Regions from separate parts of the Homo sapiens genome. Here regions 1 and 2 are each linked to region 3. The links come from fine-mapping of genetic effects on gene expression. A gene starts in region 3. Each other region holds a variant in brackets. All regions are shown on one strand. Distances are from middle to middle.

Region 1 (4,092 bases), 210 kb before region 3:
GCATATATTTATATCAATGAGGTGAATGGTTGTATAAAAAGACGCACTGTGTTGTGCGGGCAGCATGGAGGAGCAGGGAGAAGTCGTGTTAACTGTTTCTATGTACTTTTTTGCATTCCTTCACTGGTTGCAGTTAGTACAAGTTATTTTTGTAATTATTAAAGAAGAAAGTAATTTTTAAAACTTTCATAAAAAGAAATGCTTGAAAATAACTAATAAAGTATTGTAACATACCTAAATGTCAAACAGCAGAAGAATATGAAATAAATTATGCTATATCCACAGTACATAATCTTATAAAACCATTAAAATGTTACATTGACAGTGATCTTATAAAAAGTGTAGGGGAAGTTTAGTTATAATGTTAAGTGAAAAAGTAAGCTCCATTATGATCTCAAACTCCTGAGCTGTGGGTTTGTCATAAATAGCTCTTATTATTTTGAGATGCATCCCATCAATACCTAGTTTATTGAGAGTTTTCAGCATGAAGGCTGTTGAATTTTTTTGAAGGCCTTTTCTGCATCTATTGAGATAATCATGTGGTTTTTGTCTTTGGTTCTGTTTATATGATGGATTACATTTATTCATTTGCGTATGTTGAACCAGCCTTGCATCCCAGGGATGAAGCCAACTTGATCGTGGTGGATAAGCTTTTTGATGTGCTGTTGGATTCAGTTTGCCAGTATTTTATTGAGGATTTTTGCATCGATGTTCATCAGGGATCTTGGTCTAAAATTCTCTTTTTTTGTTGTTTCTCTGACAGGCTTTGGTATCAGGATGATGCTGGCCTCATAAAATGAGTTAGGGAGGATTCCCTCTTTTTCTATTGATTGGAATAATTTCAGAAGGAATGGTACCAGCTCCTCTTTGTACCTCTGGTAGAGTTTGGCTGTGAATCCGTCAGGTCCTGGACTTTTTTTGGTTGGTAGGCTATTAATTATTGCCTCAATTTCAGAGCCTGTTATTGATCTATTCAGGAATTCAGCTTCTTCCTGGTTTAGTCTTGGGAGGGTGTATATGTCCAGGAATTTATCCATTTCTTCTAAATTTTCTAGTATTTATAGTATTCTCTGATGGTAGTTTGCATTTCTGTGGGATCGGTGGTGATATCCCCTTTATCATTTTTTATTGCATCTATTTGATTTTTCTCTCTTTTCTTCTTTATTAGTCTTGTTAGTGGTCTATCAATTTTGTTGATCTTTTCAAAAAACCAGCTTCTGGATTCATTGATTTTTTTGAAGAGTTTTATGTGTCTCTGTCTCCTTCAGTTCTGCTCTGATCTTAGTTATTTCTTGCCTTCTGCTAGCTTTTGAATTTGTTTGCTCTTGCTTCTCTAGTTCTTTTCATTGTGATGTTAGGTTGTCGATTTTAGATCGTTCCTGCTTTCTCTTGTGGGCATTTAGTGCTATAAATTTCCCTCTAAACACTGCTTTGAATATGTCCCAGAGATTCTGGTATGTTGTGTCTTTGTTCTCATTGGTTTCAAAGAACATCTTTATTTCTGCCTTCATTTCGTTATGTACCCAGTAGTCATTCAGAAGCAGGTTGTTCAGTTTCCATGTAGTTCTGCGGCTTTTAGTGAGTTTCTTTTTTTTTTCTTTTAATTGTATTATTATTATTCTTTAAGTTTTAGGGTACATGTGCACAACGTGCAGGTTTGTTACATATGTATACATGTGCCATGTTGGTGTGCTGCACCCATTAACTCATCACTTAGCATTAGGTATATCTCCTAATGCTATCCCTCCCCACTACCCCCACCCCACAA[C/T]AGTCCCCGGTGTGTGATGTTCCCATTCCTGTGTCCATGTGTTGTCATTGTTCAATTCCCACCTATGAGTGAGAACATGCAGTGTTTGGTTTTTTGTCCTTGCGATAGTTTGCTGAGAATGATGGTTTCCAGTTTCATCCATGTCCCTACAAAGGACATGAACTCATCATTTTTTATGGCTGCGTAGTATTCCATGGTGTATGTGTGCCACATTTTCTTAATCCAGTCTGTCGTTGTTCGACATTTGGGTTGGTTCCAAGTCTTTGCTATTGTGAATAGTGCCACTATAAACATACGTTTGCATGTGTCTTTATAGCAGCATGATTTATAATCCTTTCGGTATATACCCAGTAATGGGATGGCTGGGTCAAATGGTATTTCCAGTTCTAGATCCCTGAGGAATCACAACACTGACTTTCACAATGGTTGAACTAGTTTACAGTCCCACCAACAGTGTAAAAGTGTTCCTATTTCTCCACATCCTCTCCATCACCTGTTGTTTCCTGACTTTTTAATGATCGCCATTCTAACTGGTGTGAGATGGTATCTCATTGTGGTTTTGATTTGCATTTCTTGGACGGCCAGTGATGATGATCATTTTTTCATGTGTCTGTTGGCTGCAGAAATGTCTTCTTTTGAGAAGTGTCTGTTCATATCCTTTGCCCACTTTTTGATGGGGTTTTTTTTTCTTGTAAATTTATTTGAGTTCTTTGTAGATTCTGGATATTGGCCCATTGTCAGATGAGTAGGTTGCAAAAATTTTCTCCCATTCTGTAGGTTGCCTGTTCACTCTGATGGTAGTTTCTTTTGCTGTGCAGAAGCTCTTTAGTTTAATTAGATTCCATTTGTCAATTTTGGCTTTTGTTGCCATTGCTTTTGGTGTTTTAGACATGAAGTCCTTGCCCATGCCTCTGTCCTGAATGGTATTGCCTAGGTTTTCTTCTAGGTTTTTTATGGTTTTAGGTCTAACATTTAAGTCTTTAATGCATCTTGAATTAATTTTTGTATGAGGTGTAAGGAAGAGATCCAGTTTCAGCTTTCTACATATGGCTAGCCAGTTTTCCCAGCACCATTTATTAAATAGGGAATCCTTTCCCCATTGCTTGTTTTTGTCAGATTTGTCAAAGATCAGATAGTTGTAGATCTGCGGCATTATTTCTGAGGCCTCTGTTCTGTTCCATTGGTCTATATCTCTGTTTTGGTACCAGTACCACACTGTTTTGGTTACTGTAGCCTTGTAGTATAGTTTGAAGTCAGGTAGCGTGATGCCTCCAGCTTTGTTCTTTTGGCTTAGGATTGCCTTGGCGATGCCAGCTCTTTTTTGGTTCCATATGAACTTTAAAGTAGTTTTTTCCAATTCTGTGAAGAAAGTCATTGGTAGCTTGATGGGGATGGCATTGAATCTATAAATTACCTTGGGCAGTATGGCCATTTTCACGATATTGATTGTTCCTACCCATGAGCATGGAATGTTCTTCCATTTGTTTGTGTCCTCTTTTATTTCATTGAGCAGTGGTTTGTAGTTCTCCTTGAAGAGGTCCTTCACATCCCTTGTAAGTTGGATTCCTAGGTATTTTATTCTCTTCGAAGCAATTGTGAATGGGAGTTCACTCATGATTTGGCTCTCTGTTATTGGTGTATAAGAATGCTTGTGATTTTTATACATTGATTTTGTATCCTGAGACTTTGCTGAAGTTGCTTATCAGCTTGAGGAGATTTTGGGCTGAGACGATGGGGTTTTCTAGATATGCAATCATGTCATCTGCAAACAGGGACAATTTGACTTCCTCTTTTCCTAATTGAATACCCTTTATTTCCTTCTCCTGCCTGATTGCCCTGGCCAGAACTTCCAACACTATGTTGAATAGGAGTGGTGAGAGAGGGCATCCCTGTCTTGTGCCAGTTTTCAAAGGGAATGCTTCCAGTTTGTGTCCATTCAGTATGATATTCGCTGTGGGTTTGTCATAGATAACTCTTATTATTTTGAGATATGTCCCATCAATAACTAATTTATTGAGAGTTTTTAGCATGAACGGTTGTTGAATTTTGTCAAAGGCCTTTTCTGCATCTGTTGAGATAATCATGTGGTTTTTGTCTTTGGTTCTGTTTATATGTTGGATTACATTTATTGATTTGCATATATTGTACCAGCCTTGCATCCCAGGGATGAAGCCCACTTGATCATGGTGGATAAACTTTTTGATGTGCTGCTGGATTCGGTTTGCCAGTATTTTATTGAGGATTTTTGCATCGATGTTCATCAAGGATATTGGTCTAAAATTCTCTTTTTTGGTTGTGTCTCTGCCAGTCTTTGGTATCAGGAT
Region 2 (4,092 bases), 240 kb before region 3:
TCATCCTTTACCTTGGACAGAATGTCCCAGACCACTGGCCTTTTAAAACTTTACCAAAGTAATAAGACCTTCAAACTTTGTAGGTTTATCTCTCACTTTATACTTACTGCTCATGTGTCTTTATAAGGGGATCCGGGACACTTGCAACTTCCTGCTCACTAGGTCTGATATTGTCAATATTGTGGATCAAGACCCCTTTATACTATATTGTCTCAAACAGCAGGAGAGTCCTTGGGTAAGACTGGATGTTCACTGTCACTGCTCTAAGTGAATACAAATTGCTTCCGATCCTCTTTCTTGATAGGGATTGAAAAGGATGCACACATTGCCAGATCATCAGCTGCGTAAAAAATACAAGAGACTGTGTCTATCTAGTAAAGATCCCATCTGCACAGCAGTTGCAACTGGGACTACCAGCTTGTTAAATTTGCAGAAGTCTACCCTCATCTGTTGTGCTCTGTCTAGCTTCTACAAAAGCAAGACTGGAGAAATAAGCAGGATTGTACATCTTTTAAATTGTGGTTGGTATCACTCTTCATTCAGAATGATTTACTCTTGGTTATCTTGCCCAGGGGTGGAGGACCCAGTATGCAATGTCATGAGCTTCCACTTGGCCTTTTCTTTTTCTTTTTTTATTATTATATTTTAAGTTCTGGGGTACATGTGCAGAACGTGCAGTTTTGTTACATAGGTATACATATGCCATGGTGGTTTGCTGCACCCATCAACCCATCACCTACGTTAGGTATTTCTCCTAGTGTTATCCCTCCCATAGCCCCCCACCCCCGAAAGGCCCCAGTGTGTGATGTTCCCCTCCCTACGTCCATGTGTTCTCATTTTTCAACTCCCACTTATGAGTGAGAACATGCAGTGTTTGGTTTTCTGTTCTTGTGATAGTTTGCTGAGAATGATGGTTTCCAGCTTCATCCATGTCCCTGCAAAGGATGTGAATTCATCATTTTTTATGGCTGCATAGTATTCCATGGTGTATATATGCCACATTTTCTTTATCCAATCTATTATTGATGGACATTTAGGTTGGCTCTAAGTCTTTTCTGTAGTAAATAGTGCTGCAGTAAACATATGTGTGCATGTGTCTTTATAGTAGAATGATTTCTAATCCTTTGGGTATATACCCAGTAATGAGATTACTGGGTCAAATGGTATTTCTGGTTCTAGATCCTTGAGGAATCGCCACACTGTCTTCCACAATGGTTGAACTAATTTACACTCCCACCAACAGTGTAAAAGCGTCTCTATTTCTCCACATCCCCTCCAGCATCTGTTGTTTCCTGACTTTTTAATGATTGCCATTCTAACTGGTGTGAGATGGTATCTCATTGTGGTTTTGCGTTTCTCCAATGACCAGTGATGATGAGCATTTTTTCCATATGTCTGTTGGCTGCATAAATGTCTTCTTTTGAGAAGTGTCTGTTCATATCCTTTGCCTACTTTTTTTTTTTTTTTTTTTTTTTTTTTTTTTTTTTTTTTGAGACGGAGTCTCACTCTGTCGCCCAGGCTGGAGTGCAGTGGCGGGATCTCGGCTCACTGCAAGCTCTGCCTCCCGGGTTCACGCCATTCTCCTGCCTCAGCCTCCCAAGTAGCTGGGACTACAGGCGCCCGCCACTACGCCCGGCTAATTTTTTGTATTTTTAGTAGAGACGGGGTTTCACCATTTTAGCCGGGATGGTCTCAATCTCCTGACCTCGTGATCCGCCCGCCTCGGCCTCCCAAAGTGCTGGGATTACAGGCGTGAGCCACC[G/A]CGCCCGGCCTCCTTTGCCTACTTTTTGATGGGGTTGTTTGTTTTTTTTTCTTGTAAGTTTGTTTAAGTTCTTTGTAGATTCTGGATATTAGCCCTTTGTCAGAGGGATAGATTGCAACAATTTTCTCCCATTCTGTAGGTTGCCTGTTCACTCTGATGGTAGTTTCTTTTGCTGTGCAGAACCTCTTTAATTTAATTAGATCCCATTTGTCAATTTTGGCTTTTGTTGCCATTGCTTTTGGTATTTTAGTCATGAAGTCTTTGCCCGTGCCTATGTCCTTAATGGTATTGCGCAGGTTTTCTTCTAGGATTTTTATGGTCCTGGGTCTTACGTTTAAGTCTTTCATCCATCTTGAGTTAATTTTTGTATCAAGTATAAGGAAGGGGTCCAATTTCAGTTTTCTCCATTTGACTAGCCAGCTTTCCCAACACCATTTTTTAAATAGGGAATCTTTTCCCCATTGCTTTTTGTGTCAGGTTTGTCAAAGATCAGATGGTTGTAGATGTGTGGTGTTATTTCTGAGGCCTCTGTTCTGTTCCATTGGTCTATGTATCTGTTTTGGTACCAGTACCATGCTGTTTTAGTTACTGTAGCCTTGTAGTATAGTTTGAAGTCAGGTAGCGTGATGCCTCCAGCTTTGTTCTTATTGCTTAGGATTGTCTTGGCTATGAGAGCTCCTTTTTGGTTCCACATGAAGTTTAAAGTAGTTTTTCCCAATTCCATGAAGAAAGTCAGTGGTAGCTTGATGGGGATAGCATTGAATCTATAAATTACTTTGGGAAGTATGGCCATTTTCACAATATGATTCTTCCTATCCATGAGCATGGAATGTTTTTCCATTTGTTTGTGTCCTCTCCTATTTCCTTGAGCAGTGGTTTGTAATTCTCCTTGAAGAAGTCCTTCACATTTCTTGTAAGTTGTATTCCTAGGTATTTTATTCTCTTTGTAGCAATTGTGAATGGGAGTTCACTCATAATTTGGCCCTCTGTTTGTCTGTTATTGGTGTACAGGAATGCTTGTGATTTTTGCACATCGATTTTGTATCCTGAGACTTTGCTGAAGTTGCTTATCAGCTTAAGGAGATTTTGGGCTGAGACAATGGGGTTTTCTAAATATACAATCATGTCCTCTGCAAACAGAGACAATTTGACTTCCTCTCTCCCTATTTGAATACCCTTTATTTCTTTCTCTTGCCTGATTGCCCTGGCCAGAACTTCCAATACTGTGTTGAATAGGAGTGGTGAGAGTGGGCATCCTTGTTTTGTGCCAGTTTTCAAAGAAAATGCTTCCAGTTTTTGCCCATTCAATATGATATTGGCTGTGGGCTTGTCATAAATAGCTCTTATTATTTTGAGATACGTTCCATTGATACCTAGTTTATTGAGAGTTTTTAGCGTGAATGAGGTGTTGAATTTTGTTGAAGGCATTTTCTGCATCTATTGAGATAATCATGTGGTTTTGTCATTGGTTCTATTTATGTGATGGATTACATTTATTGATTTGCATATGTTGAACCAGCCTTGCATCCCAGGGATAAAGCTGACTTGATTGTGGTGGATAAGCTTTTTGATGTGCTGCTGCATTCAGTTTGCCAGCATTTTATTGAGGATTTTTGCATTGATGTTCATCAGGGATATTGGCCTGAAATTTTCTTTTTTTGTTGTGTCTCTCCCAGGTTTTGGTATCAGGATGATGCTGGCTTCATAAAATGAGTTAGCGAGAATTCCCTCTTTTTCTATTGATTGGAATAGTTTCAGAAGGAATGGTACCAGCTCCTTTTTGTACCTCTGGTAGAATTCGGCTGTGAATCCATCTAGTCCTGGACTTTTTTTGGTTGGTAGGCTATTAATCACTGCCTCAATTTCAGAGCTTGTTATTGGTTTATTCAGGGATTCGATTTTTCCTGGTTTAGACTTGGGAGGGTGTATGTGTCCAGGTATTTATCCATTTCTTCTAAATTTTCTAGTTTATTTGCTGAGAGGTGTTTATGGTATTCTCTGATGGTAGTTTGTATTTCTGTGGGATCAGTGGTGATATCCCCTATATCATTTTTTATTGCATCTATTTGATTCTTCTGTCTTTTATTCTTTATTAGTCTGGCTAGTGGTCCATATATTTTGTTGATCTTTTCAAAAAACCAGCTCCTGGATTCATTGATTTTTTTTTTTTTTTTTTGAGACGGAGTCTTGCTCTGTCACCCAGGCTGGAGTGCAGTGGCCCGATCTCGGCTCACTGCAAGCTCCGCCTCCCGGGTTCACGCCATTCTCCTGCCTCAGCCTCCCAAGTGGCTGGGACTACAGGCACCCGCCACCACGCCTGGCTAATTTTT
Region 3 (4,092 bases):
CTTATAAGATCTTGCCCCCACACCTCATCCCCAGGTATGAGAGCTAGAGAAGTACCATCTCTCTGTCCCAGGACTGGGCTGCATGTCCCAGCCCTAGGCACTGCCAGCTTCACTCACATGGGTCACATAGGCGTTGAGCACCATGCCACTTAGATGGAGCACCAGCAGCCCCACAGCCTTCCCACTGAACCAGTCACCATGATGGATCTGCAGGCAGGAGGAGATAGAAACTCAGGGCACCGCCACCATCTTTCTGCCCATCCCCTGCAGCTCTCAGAGGGCTGCCTCCTCTACCTTGTATTACTGGAGGTGGGGAAGGGAGGTGGAAGAGGTCAAAGGTCTGCCTTACCATGTAGGGGTAGCCATTGAGAGTGTAGATGTGCTGGGTAAGCTCCTGGATTGGATGTTTGGAGAAGACACAGAGGCCACTGCCAATGATTCCGCTGAAAGCCAAGCCCTGCTTAATAACCAGAAAAACAGGGAGAGACACCCAGCCTTCTTCCCCTCCCTTGTCTTCCAGCTCTGATCAGCTATTTTTTTCTTTTTCTACTGCTGGGACTAGCCCTAGAACCAAGGCGACAGCCTTTGGAGGAGTATAGGGCAGCCAGAAAACAAAGCTGAAATGGGCTGAAGTCATAGGACCTTCTTGGTTCACCCTTCTCCTTCTCTCACATCCAGAGGGAGAGGAGGCTGGAGGAGACTGGAGAGTGCAGGCAGGATAGGGAAGGGCTGGCAGGGCCAAGAGCCTCCTGGGATGACAACAGGCTTCAGGCCAGTGGGCTTCTCACCTCCGGAAGTGGTGTGCAGCTGGGTAGGTAGGTGACAGCTTCTGTCTCAGGTACTGGAAGTCCTGCTCACTCCACACCTGAGGGAAGCGGTGAGGATGCCTGCTTGGTCTTTCCCCAGTGGGACGGTCTGTCCCTCCTCCCAGCCTGGGTTCCGCACCGTGCTGCACAATCTCACCTCCTCCAGCAAAGCCAGGTCGAAGCTCTCCTGGTTCAGAAAGTCTCCCAGGCGCCTCATGCGGTCGGCCCGGTGCTTGCTCAAGTACGGAATGCCCCTAAGGAAGGGAAGAGCGGGGCAGGGGAGGCGACTGCTGGGACCACCGGCGCTGGGGCCAGATGTGGACTTTGGAGGTTCGGGTTTTCCCTACACCCTGAGATCGTGGGGCGGGATAGGGGGAGGAAGGCTGCATGGGTGCGAACGGAAGGTGGCCCCCAGACCGCACTCCGCAGACGCACTCACCAGCAGTTGAGGTTGAAGATCCGCAGTCGCAGGGAGAAGTTGGGCTTCATGGTTGGGGAGCTCCAGGGGCGCTAGGCGGCTCGAACTCTCCAGCGACGGCCGCGGTGGGGACGGGGGCGGCCGGCGGCGCCTTCTCCCCAGACCGTTCCTTCTTCGCAGGCGGCGCGCACAGGTGGGCACCAAGCCCGCGTGGCTCAGGTCGGGCCCGACTCCCGCGTTCCCCCGGCAACCGGCCGGCTGTTCCCAATCAGGCGGGCCGCCAACCCGGAAAGGCGATCCGCTGCCGAAATCCGGGCGCCCAGGCTCGGTAAGGGCCGCGCGCTAGGACCCTGGGGGTCCGGAGAGCGCCCCCGGGTGGGCGGCTCCCGGTTCCTTTTCCTCCAAGCTCGTCCCCGGCGGTCGCGGCCGCCCGCGCGCCGGCGGCCCAGCAACAGGCGCAAAGTTGAGGAAAGGCCCAGCCGCCACGGGCCGCCCTCGACCCGCCCCTGGGCCCCGCCTCCTGCGAGCGGCGGAGGCGGGGCCGCGCGGTTGCCGGAGCGACGCGCAGTGTTTGGGGTCACCGGGCGTCCCCGGGCGCGGCCATGGCAAGGCCGCAGCCGTGCGGGCCCCCGCACGCTAGGTGCGGCTCGCCGTCGCTGCCGGAGCGGCCGCTGCAGGTGAAGGTGGTGGGGCTCTTCAGCTGCCCCAACTTTCAGATTGCGAAGAGCGCCGCTGAGGTAACCACAGAGAAACCTCCGTCGTGGGCGGCCCTCCCCGCTACCCGCTCTCGGCCGCGTGGACTGCAGGCGCCGCGCCTCCTCGAGGCGGCGGGGGTCGAGGCCCCACCGGCCGAGGAAGGGGCTGGCGTGTCCTGGCCGGGCGGGCTCCGTCTGGAGGACCGGGAGGAGAGTATAGGGGGGCAAGTGCGGGTCCGGGGGCGGGCGTTCCACTTGGCGACTTTTAAAGGGAGAACTGAGCGAAGGAAGGGTTCAGAACCGCGCTGGGAGATAAGGTAATCCCCTCCGAGACACACACACACACACCCGCAGATTTTGTTCTACGTCAATTTTTTCTTTAATTAGAGATATTTAAATTTATGGAAAAATGATTACTATATAACTAGCTAATTTTTACAACCCCGCCACCTCGGCCCAAGCGATTTTTGTTAACTATTCATGCGGGGAGATTCTTTTCTTTGAATTTTATAGAGCCGTCACTGCGTTCCAATCGAACTAGATGCTTCACAAGTGCTTTGGAAAATCATTTCTTTGTAAACACTCAGAACGATACTAAAGGAAAAGCACTTGAGGAAACTGGAAGAATTTGGCCAGATCAGTCATGCTGCAGCACACTTACAACCTGAAATGCAGGAGAAATGTATGAAATGTCGGCATGTAGAATTCAGCCCTTCTTACAGGGTTTGCTCCAGAAATGCTGTCCATGGCAAACTTCTCGCCGAAGCTCACTTGACTCCAGGACCATGCCTTAATTAATGTTTTTAACTCCCGAAGTACCCAGCTGGATACTTGACAACAAAATGTTCCCAAATAGAAGATATCTTGGCGCGGTGACTCACGCCTATAATCTCAGCACTTTGGGAGGCAGAGGCGGAGTTCTAGACCAGCCTGGCCAACATGGTGAAACCCCGTTTCTACTAAAAATACAAAAAATTAGCCGGGCGTGGTGGCGGTCTCTGTAATCCCAGCTACTCAGGAGGCTGAGGCACAAGAATCGCTTGAACCCGGGAGGCGGAGTTTGCAGAGAGCTGAGATCGCGCCATTGCCCTCCAGCCTGGGCGACAGAGCCAGACCCCGTCTCAAAATAAATAAATAATAAAAAGAAAACAAGTGATCAGAAGTCTGTGAAAATAATACATGAATCATCAAAAGTAGAAATTGTGGTCTGTGTTGCTTGGGCAGACGGGATCAGCAACCTTTTATTACCAAAGTTAATGGCCATGAAGTTAATTACAAAGTTAATGTATTAATGAGTTTCAGAGATTTTTTTTCTCTTTTTTTTCGCTCTTTTTCTGAAGGCACATATTTTCTGTGCCGACTCCACATTGTAAAGAAAGTGTTGACAAGTTTTTTTCTGTAAAGTCCAGATAGTAAATATGTTAGGCCTTCTTGGCAATAGGGTCTCAGTCACACCTGTTTAGCTTTTTCCTGTGTTGCAAAAGCAGACACAGAGATGGAAATGAATGACAGTATTCCAGTAAAACCATATTATGGACACGAAATTTGACTTGCGTATAATTTTCACATAACGTGAAATACAATTCTTTTGATTTTTTAGAATTGTTTACAGGCCGAGCGCGGTGGCTCTTGCCTATAATCCCAGCACTTTGGGAGGCTGAGGCGGGCAGATCACGAAATCGGGAGTTCAAGACCAGCCTGGCCAACATGGTGAAACCCCATCTCTACTAAAAATACAAAAATTATCCAGGCATGGTGGCGGGCGCCTGTAATCCCAGCTACTCGGGAAGCTGAGGCTGGAGAATCGCTTGAACCCGGGAGGTGGAGGTTTCGGTGAGCTGAGATCGTGCCACTGTGCTCCAGCCTGGGCAACAAGAGTGAGACTCTGTCTTAAAAAAAAAAACAAAAAACTGTTTACAAATCTAAAAATTATTCCTCTCCAACCCCTGATGTAGAAGACAGTAGGTCGAGAAAACAATATCTTTATTGTATTAATAATGTCAATTTTCCCTTTCTTAAACTTTTACCTACTGTAGTTATATTCAAATATGAAAATTCAGCTAGTTTTTTTTTTCTTTTTTTGGAAGAGATGGGGGTCTCACTGTGTTGCCTAGGCTGGTCTTGAACTCCTGGGCTCAAGCAATCCTCCTCGACCTCCCGAAGTGCTGGGATT

The links. PIP is the estimated chance that this variant, and not a neighbour inherited with it, causes the effect.
Region 1: its variant is the best candidate, but not a certain one, in a credible set for the expression of SMPD2 in whole blood (TOPMed, PIP 0.79).
Region 2: its variant is the best candidate, but not a certain one, in a credible set for the expression of SMPD2 in whole blood (TOPMed, PIP 0.57).

What each region holds. Positions count from the first base shown.
Region 1 is chr6:109,648,754-109,652,845 of GRCh38, reverse strand. The region is part of intron 8 of AK9 (adenylate kinase 9); the gene reads left to right. Among named protein-coding and RNA genes, the nearest start is that of AK9, 40 kb to the left of the region's middle. The variant C/T (reference allele first, on the strand shown) is at 1,769.
Region 2 is chr6:109,682,273-109,686,364 of GRCh38, reverse strand. All of the region lies in intron 1 of AK9 (adenylate kinase 9), which reads left to right. Among named protein-coding and RNA genes, the nearest start is that of AK9, 6.9 kb to the left of the region's middle. The variant G/A (reference allele first, on the strand shown) is at 1,763.
Region 3 is chr6:109,438,325-109,442,416 of GRCh38, reverse strand. SMPD2 (sphingomyelin phosphodiesterase 2) reads right to left here and starts at 1,693. Exons shown (of 10, transcript NM_003080.3): 1 at 1,246-1,693; 2 at 964-1,060; 3 at 789-865; 4 at 350-443; 5 at 118-207. The coding sequence starts at 1,295. PPIL6 (peptidylprolyl isomerase like 6) reads left to right here and starts at 1,789. Exons shown (of 8, transcript NM_173672.5): 1 at 1,789-1,961. The coding sequence starts at 1,827. RefSeq lists enhancers at 809-888, 1,049-1,118 and silencers at 1,532-1,737, 1,379-2,198.